Linked DNA regions of Homo sapiens. The protein of the gene in region 2 interacts with the protein of the main gene of each other region in a biochemical or structural test. Each region holds a gene or a part of one and is shown on either strand. Other genes may lie near its edges. The genes, in order: USP5 and CACNA1H.

What was found.
Region 1: the proteins of CACNA1H (region 2) and USP5 form a complex in vitro, tested with the Homo sapiens proteins (2 studies listed by BioGRID, with this or other methods).

What each region holds. Positions count from the first base shown.
Region 1 is NC_000012.12:6,847,430-6,855,432, reverse strand, and holds the start of USP5 (ubiquitin carboxyl-terminal hydrolase 5), read right to left. Parts: upstream 3,284-8,003; 5' UTR 3,254-3,283; coding exon 3,143-3,253; intron 79-3,142; exon of another isoform or gene 33-78; coding exon 1-32. Other genes in the region: CDCA3 (cell division cycle-associated protein 3), read left to right, coding at 4,481-4,600, 4,837-4,966, 5,575-5,868, 6,004-6,110, 6,235-6,390. UniProt on the Homo sapiens protein: Deubiquitinating enzyme that participates in a wide range of cellular processes by specifically cleaving isopeptide bonds between ubiquitin and substrate proteins or ubiquitin itself.
Region 2 is NC_000016.10:1,219,054-1,222,499, reverse strand, and holds the end of CACNA1H (voltage-dependent T-type calcium channel subunit alpha-1H), read right to left. Parts: coding exon 3,370-3,446; coding exon of another isoform or gene 3,192-3,369; intron 2,520-3,191; coding exon 1,506-2,519; 3' UTR 732-1,505; downstream 1-731. Other genes in the region: TPSG1 (tryptase gamma preproprotein), read left to right, coding at 159-304, 404-712.

The DNA.
Region 1 (8,003 bases), on a different chromosome or scaffold from region 2:
TTCATACAGATGTAGAGGCCCCCCTCAGACTCCTGTGGGACAAGAGGTAAGGGTGAAAACACGAGGATGTTATGAAGCCTGGTCAGGTGAGGAAACCAAAACCTGGAGTCAGAAACTGCTGGGTTCCAGAAGAAATGTTCTGTTCTCTAACACTGTGTGGCCCTTGGCAAGTTATTTAGCCTTTTAGGACCTGGGACATAGCTAAGATTCTCCCCATTTCCTCCCATGACTTTGATAACAACCAACAAGGACATCAGGGGGCTGAGGAACACCAGCTCATCGTCGCCATTCAACAGCAACACCAGTCACCATTTATCTTTCCACCTGCTCCTTCTTGGGCTTTGGAGCTCTTTAATCAATCACAGAGGACTTCCTTCACCTCTATCCTGGGGCTAACAGATCCAGAAAGTAAATGGGGATCAAATACTGTGGACTTCCAGTGCTGGAGATTACATTCAAAGGGAAAAAGGGTCCCTTCGTGGGAGAGGAAAGACTTTCATGTGAGACACTGAACCCAAACCAGGGGACACCTAAGACAAACCCTATCTCATCTCCATGATTCAGAAAACCTTCCAGACCAGAGGAGCAGAGATTCCAGCACTTGAACAGTATATCTGACCCGAGTGTGCCAGCAAGCAAAATTACCTTTCCTTTAAAAAAAAAAAAAATTTTATTTTAGAGACACTGCACTCTGTCACCCAGGCTGGAGTGCAGTGGCACGATCATAGCTCACTGCAGCCTCAACCTCCCCGGCTCAAGTGATCCTTCTGCCTCAGTCTCCAAAGGAGCTGGGACTACAGGCACATGCCACCATGCCTAGATTTTTTTTTTTTTTTTTTTTAGAGGTGGGGTCTCGCTATGTTGCTTAGGCTGGTCTTTAACTTGTGTGGCCTCAAACAATCCTTCCACCTTGGCCTCCCAAAGTGCTGGGATTACAGCGGTGAGACTAAACATCCAGCGAAAAAGACCTTTCTTTTACCACATTCTACCAGGTAGTCGAACCCTGGTCCACACTGTGAGTCTTCTCCCTCCTCTCCTGCTGAAGTGTGGCTTCCAGGGGAACAATGACTTGTTAGGGACTCACAGCTAAACATGCACCCAGTCTGGCAGGGTCATGAAGTCCAGCATTCCATAGCCACCACCCTCTCTCCTCTGCCTCCCCTCCGACCAATAAGATCCCTGCTGAAGTCCCAACAAATCACCAATCTCAAAGCCATCCCGTTCTGACAACAATCTCGCAACACTTGCTGAGATAGCTAGAACACACATAACCCGTGAAAACAGGGACAGACGGGTGTCCACCCAGAAACACAGCTGAGAAGGGAGGATGGGCTTCCCCCAAAGCTGACCAAGTTTTCCAGTGCCTTTGTAAAGAGTGATGGAGAAGGTGGAGGAGGAAATTGGAGACAATAAGGGTCTTCCCTCAGATCCAAGGCTTTGAGCAACAACAGACATCCTCTTCCAGGAATAAAAGTCTCAGTGGCCTTGAACATTTCTCTGCTGTGATATGAAAAATAGTGCACTGTCTAAGGTAGTTCTTGGTCCCATAGATTGCTCTGTACCACTTCCTAGGAACAGTGTGTACTGCAAGTTCATGAACAAATAGAGCATTTCTCACCGGGGAGGTCAACTAAGCTCTTTCTACCATGAGCCCAATTTGAAGGTAACCAAATATGCTGGAAGTTGGTTAGCAAAGAACTAGGGCACACTGAAAATCTCTTGACTTGGGGTGAAAAAGGGAAAGTTTCAGAAGATTACAAAAACCCTTTTTGGATTATTCAAAGCAGTTACTAAGGAGAGAGACAGGAGTGAATAAAAGTGTAAAGAGGGACCCACTGACTTCTACCACCTGCTGGTAATTTAAGAAAAACCTTTCCCTCCTGGGAAGAATGTGGGAGCTCTGAAGTGATTAAACTCCTCTGTTGGAAATTAAAGATGCTGATTTCACCAAGGATTGGGAACCCCGGAGCTCTGCTCCGCGCAGTGCTCTTTTACCTCTGCCAAAGCCAGACTTCAGAGAAGCAGCACATTGTCTGAGGCCCAGATCAAAGCCTAGCAAACCAAGCAAACCACAAATCACAGTGATGATCCTGAACTGGGCCTCACATCATGCTGTTCTACTCAGTACTGGTGATGCAGTAATGAAGGCTTTCCACTCTGACTTGCAGTTTTCAGGCCATGAGCTGGTTCTGGCAGAATACACTGGGCAGGGCACAGCAGCTTGAGGGGAGGGGTGGTGAGGGGGGCGGATCCCAACCAAGCTGCTGCCTTCTCAGTTCAGGCCCCAAAGGGCCTCCGCTTGAGGGTGACATAGGGAAGGCAGAACTGCAGGAAGGGAGGTACCAGGTGGAGCCTGCAAAACGTGAAGCATGGTGTGGGAGGTGGCTTTGTGTAACTAGCCAAGAGTGGGAGCGGGATGGGAAAGAGGCCTTAGCATCCTCCGAGAAAGAAACCACCTCTCTAGGAATACTTTAAAAGGGGTTATCTCAGCTGTCTGTGATAGGCTGGGGGGCGGGGGGAAGGGTGGGGGCTGCGGCCATTGCTCACTTCAAAGGAGAAACGACTAGAGCTTTCCTCTCCTCTTTCCTCCCCTCCCCGCCCCCTGTCTGTTTTAACCACGGGGTGGAGGCTCTCTGCCTTTCTCAGAATCGGACTTCTTGAGAGTCCACTCCCAGACTATTAACCGCCTAGGAACTGCGGTCCCCACCCCCCAACTCCAACCCCGGCCGAGAACAGTGGGGAGTCGTCCCCATCACTCCTACACGAGACTACAAAACCCGGAGAGCCGTGCGCGGCAGACAAGGCCGACTGCCAGGTTTTCTCAAGGGTCCACTTGGGGGATGTAGTCCGACGGTCGGGCTGCGCCCCTAGCTTAGAACGGCAACGAAGGCAGTGAGTGACTACAATGCCCACAGTGCTCCACGAAGCGGGGAGCCGGAGAGGTGAGCGCGGCGGCTTCCGGGGACGGTAGTCACACGACAGCCGCAGTTAATGAAAGGCAACGGCAGAGTGGAGCGTGGGAGACTACAAGTCCCATGGTGCATCGCAGGGAGGCGGTAGCCCAAGCCTTGCAGGCCCCAGCGGAATGACCAGGGCGATGGAAGGAAGTCGTGCTCGTTGCGGGCGTGGGGAATGGGCTTACCGGCGTGTCGAAGGAGAAGGCGCACTCGTCTTTGTGGACCCGGTCTCCAGCCTTAGGGACCCGGATCGTCGGTAATACTGACAGCAGCGCCTCCTCACTCAGCTCCGCCATGACACCGGCAGCAGCTTCTCCACACACGGCGGCTCCCACCGTTCCCAGTCCCCTCCCCTGCCCCTCCCGTCCAATGAGCGCCACTCGTTAGGGGCATGCGCCGCGGAGACGACGCGCGAGAATGGCAGTTGGACGGAGCCTGCCTGCCGGTGCTCCGCCCCTGCCCCGCGCTTGACTGACGCCAATGAGAAGCGCTCCTAAGGCAATTGATGGTTGAAAGAACCAATCCCACTCCTCCAGGGCGGGAGCGCACGTAGAGCAGCTAGGTGGGCTTCGGGGTTGCAGCTGCTGCGGCTCCGCAGCTGCTCCGGCTCCGGGACCCTTAGAGTCCATTCGCGTGCCTTCTATTGAAGAGCAGGAACTGACGGTTGTTTTAGGCCTCTCAATTCCAGAAAGTTTCCTGGGGACCTGTCCGGTCGGAAAGTCGAGGGACAGTTGTCTTGGTATTTGTAAAGGGGGTATCCAGTGAGGCGGAGCTTGAGGGGGTTGTGTCGAGTGACTGATACAGCTGTCAACCAATAAAGCTACTATCGCTCGCCTCAGGAAAACCATCACAACTCCAGCTGGATGTGCGCATAATAGTGTAATCACTCATGATTCTATTTTGTTTAATAATTCGTTCTTGAGACTAGACGTCTCGAAAGCGAAGACTGGCACTCCTCAGCCTGCCACGGACGGCTCGCAGGCCGATACTGAACAGAAGTACCCTTATCAAGGAGGCGTCACCCCTGGGCAAGCCTAGCATCAGTCCATTGACACCTACAGTCACCATGATAGACGTTCTCCCAGACCAACAGCTTCCTTTGGCTCGAGGCGGGTCTTACGTGGAGGGCCTATGGGAACTACGTCGGCTCAGCCAATAGGGTCAGGGCAGGGGGCGTGGCGGGAAGTTTGAAACTGGTAACTTCGGGAGTTGAGCCACGAGCTGTTGTGCATCCAGAGGTGGAATTGGGGCCCGGTAAGTGATTTGAATAATTTAATAAATAAGTTAGAGGGCTCAGCAGGCCCAGAACGAGCCATTTTGTCAGCTGCAGCAGTCATTAACTCCGCAGAGGCCTCTGGTCCCTCGCCAGGAAGTTTCTTCACTGGAAACTGGGAAGACAGGGTGGTTTAGGGTTGAAGGTCCGACGTGGAAGAGATAAGGGCTGAGACCTGAGTCACTTCTCACAGGCATTCCCTCCTCGTCCCGGGCTGGCCCTTGCCCCCACCCTGCAACTCCTGGTTGAGATGGGCTCAGCCAAGAGCGTCCCAGTCACACCAGCGCGGCCTCCGCCGCACAACAAGCATCTGGCTCGAGTGGCGGACCCCCGTTCACCTAGTGCTGGCATCCTGCGCACTCCCATCCAGGTACTCTGGGCCAGCGTGGGAAAGGCAGAGAATGTCTGAATTCTTGGGTCTCTTCCTAACCTGATTTTGAGAGAGCCGTCATGACCCCACCCTTATCCTAGCCTTATTTTCTGCAATCTCAATCTGTGTGGGGTAGGCTGGATATCTGAGGGCCTTGGCAATTCCTTCCTGGAATATGGGGAGGAGAGGAGAGAAGAGTCAGGGCCCAGACTTGTTCTAGCCTATGGTCTTGACAGGTGGAGAGCTCTCCACAGCCAGGCCTACCAGCAGGGGAGCAACTGGAGGGTCTTAAACATGCCCAGGACTCAGATCCCCGCTCTCCTACTCTTGGTATTGCACGGACACCTATGAAGACCAGCAGTGGAGGTAAGCGTTGGGCCCAGGGAATGCTGATGAAGCTGTCATCTATTATTCTTGGGTAGGGTCCATGAAGCCATTCTCTCAGGGTTCCTTAAAGGGGCCTCTATCCTCCTGCTTCGGACCCATCTCACTCTTATCTCAATATTTTGTTCCCAGCCTGGGTGCGGTGGCTCATGCCTGTAATCCCAGCACGTTGGAAGGCCGGGGTGGTCAGATCGCTTGAGCCCAGGAGTTCAAGACCAGCCTAGGCAACATGGCAAAACCCCATCTCTAGAAAAAATACACACACATAACACACACACACACACACAAAAGCACGGTGGCATGGGCCTGTGATCCCAGCTACTCAGGAGGCTGAAGTGGGAGGATTGCTTGAGCCCACAAGGTCAAGGCTGCAGTGAACTGTGATCACGCCACTGCACTCCAGCCTGGGGGACAGAGCAAGCCCCATCTCAAAAAAAAAAAAAATTGCTCCCTTTCACCTTGATTTCCTTGATTTCTCTCTTCCCACTTGCTCACCCTCCTGGGCATGAGTCCTGGGTTTCTGTATGTTTTGCTCCTTGCTGAATGTTGTGTATCAGAAGGTCACTGTTCACTTCACTTTCTTCCTCTAGACCCCCCAAGCCCACTGGTGAAACAGCTGAGTGAAGTATTTGAAACTGAAGACTCTAAATCAAATCTTCCCCCAGAGCCTGTTCTGCCCCCAGAGGCACCTTTATCTTCTGAATTGGACTTGCCTCTGGGTACCCAGTTATCTGTTGAGGAACAGATGCCACCTTGGAACCAGACTGAGTTCCCCTCCAAACAGGTGTTTTCCAAGGAGGAAGCAAGACAGCCCACAGAAACCCCTGTGGCCAGCCAGAGCTCCGACAAGCCCTCAAGGGACCCTGAGACTCCCAGATCTTCAGGTACAGAATCTAAGGCAAGATGCAGGGAAGATAAACTAGGATAATGTTTTGGGATAAGGTCCATGGGTGAGTGTGGGAGGAATAAACTGTAAGTCCTAGTTTTGGGTCCTTGCTTTAACGCCTTACCCACCCCAGGTTCTATGCGCAATAGATGGAAACCAAACAGCAGCAAGGTACTAGGGAGATCCCCCCTCACCATCCTGCAGGATGACAACTCCCCTGGCACCCTGACACTACGACAGGTAAAGGAAGAGAAAGTGCAAGCTGTTACTAGGATATCCAACGTAGAGGGTGGGAGACCCTTTTACCCAGATCTTCCCTCTTCTGAACAGCAACTCCCCCCAACTCATACACTGCCGTTTTCAGGGTAAGCGGCCTTCACCCCTAAGTGAAAATGTTAGTGAACTAAAGGAAGGAGCCATTCTTGGAACTGGACGACTTCTGAAAACTGGAGGACGAGCATGGGAGCAAGGCCAGGACCATGACAAGGAAAATCAGCACTTTCCCTTGGTGGAGAGCTAGGCCCTGCATGGCCCCAGCAATGCAGTCACCCAGGGCCTGGTGATATCTGTGTCCTCTCACCCCTTCTTTCCCAGGGATACTGAGGAATGGCTTGTTTTCTTAGACTCCTCCTCAGCTACCAAACTGGGACTCACAGCTTTATTGGGCTTTCTTTGTGTCTTGTGTGTTTCTTTTATATTAAAGGAAGTAATTTTAAATGTTACTTTAAAAAGGTATATGTAAACCTTGCACCGAGTTTTCTGTGTGTAGAATGGCGGCCTAGAGAGCTTGCGTTCCCTGGCCTGAGCCCACTGATGCTCTGAGCCTTCTTTGCACATCTCCCTTTAACCATGGTGTCCCTATGGCTCTGTCCTTGGCCCTGCTCTCCCTGGGTGTTTACTTCTAGGGCTTTAGCTATCACTTCCCTATATTCTGGTAACTTTCAGGTCTCTCTCTCTAACCCTGACCTTTATCCAGCTGCTTTATAAGTACTTCAAAGTCAGTTTGTCTAAAACTGAATTTATGATCTTCCCCCAAAAGCTATTCCTCATTCCCTCTTCCCTATCCTTGTGAATGACAGCATTATCTACCCAGCCACCAAACCCAAACCTTGGCCATTATCTCGAATCCTTCCCTCCCAATGTCCTATATCCTAGCATTTGGTCACTAAATCCTGGTGATTCCACATTTTGTTTGTTTGCTTGTTTTTTAGAGGCAGGGTCTTGCTCTTGTCACCCAGGCTGGAGTGCAGTGGCACGATCACAGCTCACTGCAGCCTCAACTTCCTGAGCTCAAGCGATTCTCCTGTCTCAGCCTCTCCAGTAGCTGGGATTATAGGCATGAGCCACCACGCCTGGCTAATTTTTGTATTTTTTTTATAGAGATGAGGTCTTGCCATATTGCCCAGGCTGGTTTCAAACTCCTAGGCTCAAGTGATCTGCCTGCCTCAGCCTCCTGAAGTGCTGGGATTACAGGCATGAGCCACCATGCCCAGCCTGCCCAGGTAATTTTTAATTTTTTTTGTAGATACAGGGTCTTACTATGTTGCTCAGGCTTGTCTCAAACTCCAGACCTCAAGAGATCCTTCTGCCTCAGCCTTCCAAGGCTCTGCGATTACAGGCATGAGCCACTGTTCCAGCTGATTCCACATCTTTAATCTCTTCCTAATCCCTCTCCCTAACCCCTCTGTCCTGTCGCTCTTGCATTTCTTGCCACCTGCCTCCTACCTTGTTTCCCCAGTGCCAGTCCCTCCCTTTCATCAACCTACACTGCTTCTTTCTGAAAGATCTGGAGCAATCTTTCTGAGAAGCATAACTGATCATGTTACTACTCTGCTCAGAACTCCTCAATGGCTTCTCATTGCCCTTAGGAAAAAGTCTGGACTCTCTGGCTTGACATTCAAGACCTTTTATAATCTGATTCCTTCTCAAGCTAACCCTCCCGTACAAACACATGGGCACCACAGGCAGGCCATAGCGAACTGCTGCACACAGTCCCCCAGCCACCTGCTGAATACCTTCTCCCCCTGACCCATCTCAGGCCTCCTCCCATAAGCCCACAAGCTATCCAGTACCCAGCCTTTATCACAGCACCTGTAACACATTACTGCCCTTAAATGGGACCTGGGTCTTTTT
Region 2 (3,446 bases):
CGTGTGGATCCAAAGCAGCAGCCAAACGTCAGATCACAACCCACGTGCCGTGACGAGGGTCGTGGTGGCATGGGACTTGTGTCTGGCAAGGTCTCCCATCCCCCCAGTGCAGGGCCTGGTGCCCCAACCTTCTCTGAAGCCTGTTCCCCCCACCCCAGAGCCTCTGCCACCCCCGTACAGCCTGCGGGAGGTGAAAGTCTCCGTGGTGGACACAGAGACCTGCCGCCGGGACTATCCCGGCCCCGGGGGCAGCATCCTTCAGCCCGACATGCTGTGTGCCCGGGGCCCCGGGGATGCCTGCCAGGTGAGCCTGCCAGGCCGTGACAGAGGATGGGGGCGGCTGAAGCCCAGGGAGGGGCTCCCCATCTTCTCGGCTCCCAATGCTCGCCTTCTCTGTCCTCAGGACGACTCCGGGGGGCCTCTGGTCTGCCAGGTGAACGGTGCCTGGGTGCAGGCTGGCACTGTGAGCTGGGGTGAGGGCTGCGGCCGCCCCAACAGGCCGGGAGTCTACACTCGTGTCCCTGCCTACGTGAACTGGATCCGCCGCCACATCACAGCATCAGGGGGCTCAGAGTCTGGGTACCCCAGGCTCCCCCTCCTGGCTGGCTTCTTCCTCCCCGGCCTCTTCCTTCTGCTAGTCTCCTGTGTCCTGCTGGCCAAGTGCCTGCTGCACCCATCTGCGGATGGTACTCCCTTCCCCGCCCCTGACTGATGGCAGGAATCCAAGTGCATTTCTTAAATAAGTTACTATTTATTCCGCTCCGCCCCCTCCCTCTCCCTTGAGAAGCTGAGTCTTCTGCATCAGATTATTGCAACATTTAACCTGAATTTAAAAGCACACGAAACAAAGGTGTCAATGGGAATCTCGCGGCCAACGCCCCCAGATGTAGGGGAGGCCTGATTCGCATCGGGGCCGGGCGCGTTACTCCATGGGGTCGGCCCCTTAGTGAGGTGTCACCTCTCCCAGAGTCACAGGACGCTTCTGGGAAGGCCCGAGCGGAACGGAAAGGGTGGTGGCTGGAAGGGGAGGGTGGTGAGGGCGTGACAGGCGGACAAGAACTCAGACTGTGAGTGAAGGTGACATTGGGCCGCGGTGGCTGCAACCTGCCGCCGGCAAGGGCACAGGGCCCCCAGCGAGTGTCCTGTAACAACGCGGGGCCTGAAAGGACGCAACCTGGTACCTTCCCCTCTCTGGCGGGTGCCCGGTCTTCGTCCCACAGACGCGGCTTCTCTCCTGACGGGAGGCTGACCCAGTTGCCCGCACAGCCTCGGCTGGTAGCAAAACTCGGAGAAACCCGAACCAGAACGGACGGAGGCTCGTGGGGCCCGGCAGCTACTCCTGCTTCGCTGGGCAGAGAACCAGGGCCTGGGCCGTCATCCTCCCCGGGCCTTTCTGCTCACGACGGGACCCAAGTCAGGGTCCATGCAGGGTTCTGCCTGGGCCTCCACCCCAGCGGGGCCCCCAGACCCCAGGGCCAAAGCCGTGGGCGGCACCAAGCCCCGAGCTACACGGGGTCATCTGCACCACCCCCTGGGGCAGGGGTGGCTGAGGGGGACCCTGGTTTCTCCAGAGGACACTGGGGGACTGTGAGGTACAGCCCCCGCCTCTTCTCTGGGGGGTCACCGACGGGCATGGGAGGCTCTGATTCTGGGGGTTCCAGGGGCACTATGGCCCCTGAAGAGGAAGCTCTGGATTCTGGGGTCACACTGTGGCTACCGTCCAAGAAAGGGTCTCCACTGGGGACCCCGAGGTCCAGCGGCTCAAAGGCAAAGCTGGGGACGGTCAGGTGCTCAGCCCGGCAGGAGGCCTGGCCCCAGCGCTCCCCCTTGGCTGCAGGGTCCCCCCCGGCGCCTGAGCCCTCTGTGGGCTCCAGGGAGTCCCTGTGAGGCGTGGCCTCACAGGACGGGGTCCTGCGCCTCAGTGTGGTGCTGCCGCCCTCTGCCGCGGAGGGCCGCGCAGAGCCCTCGTCCTCCGCAGGGGGTTCCACCGAGATGCAGGGGGGGCTCATCTTCTTCTTTCTGCGCGCACCCAGAGCGGGCTCGGCCTCAGGGCCCCAGGCCTTCGCCTCCCCAGGCTCCCCGCTGCCCAGCTCCGCCGAGGGCCGCCACTGCTCGTCTGCCCGGCCCGGCTTGTCCAGGAAGCCCTGAGCATCCACGCTGTAGAGCCTGCGCAGGTCCCGCTCGCCGCCGGCCACCGGAGAGGCTTCGGGGCCATGGGGCTCGGCTGTGGGCTGCCAGGGGCAGGCGGAGCTGGTGATGTGGCTGACCTCCTCGTCGGCTGGGTCCGAGGCCTCGGCCTCCTCTCCGCCTGGGGCCGCCGGCCGGCTGGAGACGCAGCGCTGTCCGAAGGTATGCTTACGAGTGCGGACGCTGGCGGGCCGTGGGGAGCGTGGTGGGGACTGCAGGGAGCCCCCCTGGGTCACCGGCCTCACCGGGGTTTTCTCACCAGGCTCTGCAGGATCCAGGGTGTCCCTAGGGCTGTCAATCTTCCCTTCCAAGGAATCGGTGTGCACAGCCTCCTGTGGGGGCGTAGAGTCAAAGTGAGGGGCGGGGCCCTGGGAGAGCCCTGTCAGTGGCCAGGGCTCGGAGACCCCTCACCATCCAGGTACTGGAGAGGCCAAACTGGGCAGGTCCCCTGGGTGGCTCCTGACCCTCGAGATGGGGCTGGAAGCCGCTGGTGTGGACGTCCTAGTCTCACTCCTGACCTGTGAGGCTCCCGGGGAAAGCCTGTACCCGCTGCTCTGTGGGCAGAGATGCCATGGCCCCCAGGGGCACAGAGCTGAGGCTGAGGCCACCTCCCCACCCCTGGACATCAGCAGCCCAGCTGGGCACCCCCAGGATGGGGCTCTCCTAACTGCTCCTGTGCGGTACAGGCGTCTTGTACTGGGCAGCAAGAGGTAGGAAAGGGCAGGAAGAGGAGCTGAGGCTGCAGGTGGGCAAGGCTGGGACATCTGAACACAAGCCAGGACTGAAAAAGCCGCTGTCTGCCCACCACGGGACCCATGCCCACATGGGGCCTGAGAAACTGCCATCTGCCCGCCGTGGGCCCTGGGAAACTGCTGTCTGCCCACCACGGGACCTGAGAAACCGCTGTCTGCCCACCGTGGGGCCTGAAGCTGTGGGTCCAAGAAGACTCAGGTCCCTGTAGCCAAGAGCTCTGTAGCCACAGGCTCACAGGCCTGAAGACGCACCTGGGCCCAATGCTCCAAGATCCACCAAGCAGCAGGCAGAAACCTTCGGAGCCCCAAGGACCCAGTGCGACCCTCCTCCTGCCTTGTCCTCGTCTGCTGGTCCTTCAGATGAGACGAGGCATCCCTGCAAGCCCCCCATCCCCGCCAGCCTCTGCTGCAGGCCAACGGCTTCTCCTACCTGTCTGCAGAGCAGCCGGCTGAGACTGGGGGAGCGGGCTGTGCCCCGAGGGGACAGGGCGTGGAGGGGCTCGCCGC